Regions from separate parts of the Homo sapiens genome. Here region 2 is linked to region 1. The links come from fine-mapping of genetic effects on gene expression. A gene starts in region 1. The other region holds a variant in brackets. All regions are shown on one strand. Distances are from middle to middle.

Region 1 (2,919 bases):
CTTCATCAGAATGCAAAATATGATCTTGACCAAGTAAAGTTGGTTCAGCCACAACCCAGAACATAGAGGAAGTACATCCTACTGACACTGTTGAAAAAAAATTTTTTTAAACATTTAGATAGCAATTTTATGCTAAACGACACCCAGAGAAAGTCTGAACATAGCATATTTAAACATATGTATATACACCACTGTAAAACAGCCTTGAGAGATACAATATGATCACTCAGATGAAATGGTAAAATTGTAAATGAAGGATCAGTCCCATTCAAGCCTGTCTGGAAACAACCTCTGTCTCCTTCCCTGCGAGTACTGTTTCCTTAAAAGTTCAACATTAAGCTAAATATGGGATGCTGTCTCTGCTTCTTTTGCTGTATGGGGCTGCCCATGGATTGGGGGAGCCTCAAGCTGGTGTGCTGGCCTTGAGTTTACATAATTAGGCCAGTGTAAATGACTGATAGGGCACTGAAGCTGCAGCTTCTATGGCCTCTGACTCTCATCCCTGGCAGACATCTACATCCCGTGTGGGTGAAGAGACAAGGGAAACTGTACCCTGGGGCATCTGCTAGACCTGCCAATAAGATGAAGATCTGCACCTGCTCTGTCTCCACCCTGTATCCTTCTATGATGCAAAAGGAAGATAGTCTCAGATTAAAACCTTGTGTGGTAAGTCTGTCAACTCAAAACATTCACAGCTGTGGTGTTACAACAGCATTTCTTCATTTTGTGTCTATTAATTCTACTACCAGAAGCATATCCAAAAAACATTTTTAGACAAAAACATATCCTATAGATAAAGCAATTCATCACTGTATTTTCATGGTTTAAAAAAAAAACTAGAAATAACAAAATTATATGTATTTTATATGTATTATTTCTACCCAATAACTTTGTACATAAATAAAAATATATAGTTTAGATGAGAAAAGATTACTGTAAAATATGGAAAAAGTAAGTGGAATGCAAATAAAACTATTAATATTAATGATAACAACTTTATGACTTAGGGAGAATAAGAAGTGAAAGGAGAAAAAATGAAGAACTTTATTTTCTCAACCTGATTTATGATCACTAACTCATGACCACTTAGGAGGCAACAGGGCAGGACAGGAGGCAGGTGGCAGGATTATGAGTGGGAGATCAGGGTGGGAGGTGGAAGAGCAAGTTGAAACCTTAAATAGAGAAATATTTTTCCACAGGTAGGGTGAATAGGGTGACAAAACACAATAGAAAACACCTAAATCCAGAGGAAGAATAAAACTAGCTCTTTCTCAAGTATTAGGATAAACTAGATAAATCACTTGCTTTGCGGGGTGGTAGAGAGCAAACAAGAGAAAGCAATACCACTACAGAAGTCAGAAAACTATACTGGAAAGTCACTTCCACTCAAAACAGCAAACAGTAAAAGGCCCACAACCGCTAAGAAACTATGACTTCAAACAACAAAATATAAAGGTCACTTGTACCTGACTCTTGCTCAGAAAGAGTCAAAATCGTGCACAAAAGGAAAGAGGACTGTAACCTCACAAAATCTTTCATGACGTCAGCTGCCAACTAATGACCCCTGAAAAATTCAGGAAATTGGAAGCGGCTGCCCTGCTTTTGATACTTTTATACCCGCTGCCACACCCAGCTGACTACATTTACAAATCACTTTTTGCCAATGGCTTATATTTTCCAGGAATGTATTGTTTTTGCCAATTTAAGTTGCTTAATGTTTGGAAAATACAGAAAGTATAAAGAACAAAATTAAAACTCTTTATAAAAACCACTATTTTTATATTCACAGAAATAATTTTTTCTCCCTGCTGAAACTTGACATTCTCTTGATCACTCCAGAACCAAAATCAGGCTGCAAATAAAGTCCCATTGACAAATCTTTGAGAACTGTGACTTCTTCAGGCCCTCCAAAGTTCCTAGAACAGAATGTTCACAGAAGGTCAATGCATGTTTATTGAATTGTTGGGAAATGATTTTCAAACTTTAGCAGCATCAAAAACACCTGCAGCACTTGTTAATACACCGATAGCTGAACTGTGTTCAGGAAATTCTTATTCAGGGCTGGGAATGGAAGGGCCAAGAATTTACATTGCTGAAAGTTTCCAGGTGCTGCTGATGCTGCTGACCCCAGGATCATACTTTGAGATTGTGCCTCAGGCATGTTCACTTTAGAAAGTATTTATTTCAATGGCTCCCAAATTTTAGATTAATTTTCAAAATTATCTGGAACACCATTTAAAAATATGTGTATTCTAACCCCAATCTAGTCCATTGAGATCTATTGTAGCTGGAAATGTAAGAATGCATATGAGTCACTGCAGGGTCTTGTCAAACATGCAAATTCTCACAGTCTAACTCAGTGGGGCAAGACCCAGGAATCTGCATTTTTAAACAACTGCCCCCAGGTGACTCCTGGAGGCTCACACTTTGAGAAACTCTAAGCAGAAGTCCTCAGGGCTGCTGATGAAGGAGGAGGGAGGCAGATCTCCAATTCTTTTTCAGTTATTTTCATTTTATTTATATCTGTTTTATATTAGATCCTTTTTAAAACATCAACATTATAAATTCTCAGCATCCTTTGACCTGAAATGTAACATCATAATTTTAAATAATAAACCAAATGTGCCTGGGGCTACTCATTAAATGACATCTTTGATGGATCAATAAGGAATAAAACAATGAATCCAAATCCTATTTCTCATCATATAATCTCCTGAGACTTCCAACATCTATAATATAAACTTTGCAAAATATGTATGTTATCTGTGCCACTAGTCATTATCTTTTGAGAATCTGGAATGACCTAAAAGAAAACAGAGACCAGTCCAACTAGCATGACATTGGGCCAAGTTCCAGAATCAGTAGTCTAAACAAAGCCTTCCCATAAGAGATATAAAAAATAAAATAAAAATTCCTTCA
Region 2 (2,919 bases), 300 kb after region 1:
TGTGAGAGAGATTGTTCTATAGGGCTGGAATATTCAGAGTTACATTCTTGGAAGTTTCTGTTTTTACTTGCATCAAACACCCCTCTGTTGTTCTCCATCATCTTTAATAGCAACTGGAGACCACTTTGGTCATTGGTAAGGGGGTGCATTCTCCTCACAAAGGGGTTTTATGGACTTCCTCAGGCGGAGAGCTTCTGAGAACACAGGCAGGATGGAAAAAGACTACTAGCCACTTTTGCTTTCCCAACCCCCCTTAATGCCATCCTTCATTGTCTTTCTGGCTTCTCTTCTTCTGGCACAGTACCATTTTGGGTCTGTGCCCCAGTGTGGAGCAAAACATTGCCTGTCCCATTCTGATATACTTCAGAATTTGAGAGCAGAAGTTAATGTGGAACAAAAGTTTTCACCATCTCTCAAGCCCCAAGGACTGGAGCCACCTCTGGAATAATGTGTTAAATATCTGTATATTATATATATGTAGAGAAAAATCTAATTTTTTGGTTTGATTTCCTTCCCATTAAGAATCTTGTTTTTTGATACCCTTGTCTCCCTGAGACTCTTTCTTGGACACGTGTTGATGTGGATGGCACTCCTGCTCTCCATCTTTTATGGGCAGAGAGATTTCAAAACCTGAGCAGGATCATGTCTGGCAGTTACTAAACAGGGACTTTGTCCATGGTTTGTATCATGGGGTGCCTACTGCTGTCTAAACTCTGCTCTCCTAATTAGCTGACTCTTGAAAATGAAATCCTAACCTCTTTCCTGCCTCTTTTCTTTCTCTTTTCAGGAAGAGTGTGGGTAGAAAGTCCGGAGGGCAACTTCCAATTTAATTCTGCTCTGTCCGGCGCATAGGCTGAATTCCAAAAGAACTTTCTTCCTAGGATGTGGGGCTTAAAGCACCGTCATGTGGGGTGGATCAGATAATTGCTCCTGTGGGGCCCTGGCTTCCTTCTCTGTTTGTGCAGTATTTGTTTTTGTTGTCTTGTTGAGAAATATCCCCTGTGCAACCCACCCTTGGTTGAGGATCACAAATTGAGGTGCCTTCCTTGTATGCTTTTTGTTAGTATTTTTTGTTTTTGTTCCTTAACTGCTGAGCCTCAGCCAGCGTGGGTCCTGGGGGAAATACCATTCCAAAGGAAGCCATCCCTATGGGGAAATTGGTTTTACTGGGTAAATTAATACTTTTATTTCTTCCCCTATCC[C/T]TTCCTTCCTAGTTGTGATAAACATGGGAGAGGAGTGACTTTGACTGCTGGGGAATTTCCTCCTAAGAACCTTATTCCCAAAATAAGCCAGGGATTATGTCAAGGCTTCTTTCAAGGAGGCTCATAAAAGCAGTGACCTCATCCGGGGCTTTGGATAGAGTGAGAATTCCCCAACTAAATTGGACTTCTCTGCTTTATCCCCTTCTCTTCCTTCACCATCTGCACTACATTTCTGGCTGATCCCAATCAGATTCCCGCTAATGGAAGAAGTTTAGAATCTTTCAGGTGGAATAAAGTCACATGAAAACAAAACACAACTATATATATTTTCAGTTTTTTTGCCTTATTGATTTTTTTCCAAAAAAAAAAAACTACTAAATTAAATAATTTTTTAAAAGTCATATTGTTTGTCTGATTCACTTCTGCTGCTAGGCAGTAAGTGGTGTTGGGGAGGTGAAGGAGAACTGGTCCAATGGTAATTTGTTCTGCTCAAGAATCTGAGCGCCCAGAAGCCCTGGTCTTCATGAGAAATGGAAAGTAAAGCTGTTCACCACCACTCCGGAGGGCCATGAGCAGAGGAGTAGTTTTAACAGCCCCTGCTGCTTAAATTAACAGTCATCAACATCCCACCTTAGTACAGGGGAATCGTTTTTAGTGTTTTTGGTACTGGGCCTGCTTCACTTCAAAAATTTTCCCTGTAAATTTAATTTATCTTGTCCATTTAGATTCTCAGATTGTTGGCTGTTTATGTAGGAATTCAAATTCTGTTTTTTGTTTGAGACAGGGTCTCACTCTGTCACCCAGGCTGGAGGGCAGTGGCATGACAGCTCACCGTAACATCCACCTCCTAGGCTCAAGCGATTCTTGCCACCTCAGCTCCCCAAGTAGCTGGGACCACAGGTGCATGCCACCAGAACCAGCTAATTTTTGAATTTTTAGTAGAGACAGGGTTTTGCCATGTTGCCCAGGCTGGTCTTGAATTCCTGGGTTCAAGCAATCCACCAGCCTCTGCCCCCCAAAGTGCTGGGATTACAGACAGGTGTGAGCCACTGCACTTGGCCTCAAGTTCTGTTTTTGAAACAAGCAATTGAGTTTTGATTTGAAGACCTTTGAGAAAACTAATGACAGTGAACATGTTTGTACAAGTTTTCACTGGAAAGTTCAGGTTCAGGGAGGGGATAGGCAAAGTAACCTATGGTCCTGGCGGGGGCTCAGATCAGAGCAAGCACAATTCCTGCCCGTGGGAGGGACCTCACATTTGCTGAGCATCTGCCTCCATGGAATAGGATCTGCCTCCATGCTGAAATAGGAACTCTGACCATTCTCTGGCTTGCACATAAACGATTTTAAGAAGAAAATGTTGCAATCATTTTGAAGATGAAGGAAACCTAATTTAAATAAATTCACTCATGGTCATGTAGCTGGTCAGTTAGTCACAGTGTTGGAATTCAAAGCTGGGTTGAGTTTGTGACCTCTACAGTCCTGTGCTCTGGAAGAAACTCTGGGTTGGAAGGCAGCTGATAATTAAGTACTTTCCTCCTAGATTATATCACATCATGCATAAATGCACATTTTCATTTCCGGAAGCTAATATCGATAGCACCATTTCTTTTTTTTCTTTTTTTTTTTTTGAGATGGAGTCTCTCTCTGTCACCCAGGCTGGAGTGCAGTGTCGCGATCTCAGCTCACTGCAACCTCCGCCTCCCGGGTTCAAGCA

Evidence for each region. PIP is the estimated chance that this variant, and not a neighbour inherited with it, causes the effect.
Region 2: its variant is the best candidate, but not a certain one, in a credible set for the expression of OOSP3 in whole blood (INTERVAL, PIP 0.66).

Annotation. Positions count from the first base shown.
Region 1 is chr11:59,877,429-59,880,347 of GRCh38, reverse strand. It overlaps OOSP3 (oocyte secreted protein family member 3), which reads right to left and starts at 1,566. Exons shown (of 5, transcript NM_001395255.1): 1 at 1,467-1,566; 2 at 1-87. The coding sequence starts at 1,539.
Region 2 is chr11:59,573,082-59,576,000 of GRCh38, reverse strand. It overlaps OSBP (oxysterol binding protein), which reads left to right. Exons shown (of 14, transcript NM_002556.3): 14 at 1-1,603. Among named protein-coding and RNA genes, the nearest start is that of TRF-GAA2-1, 8.1 kb to the right of the region's middle. The variant C/T (reference allele first, on the strand shown) is at 1,203.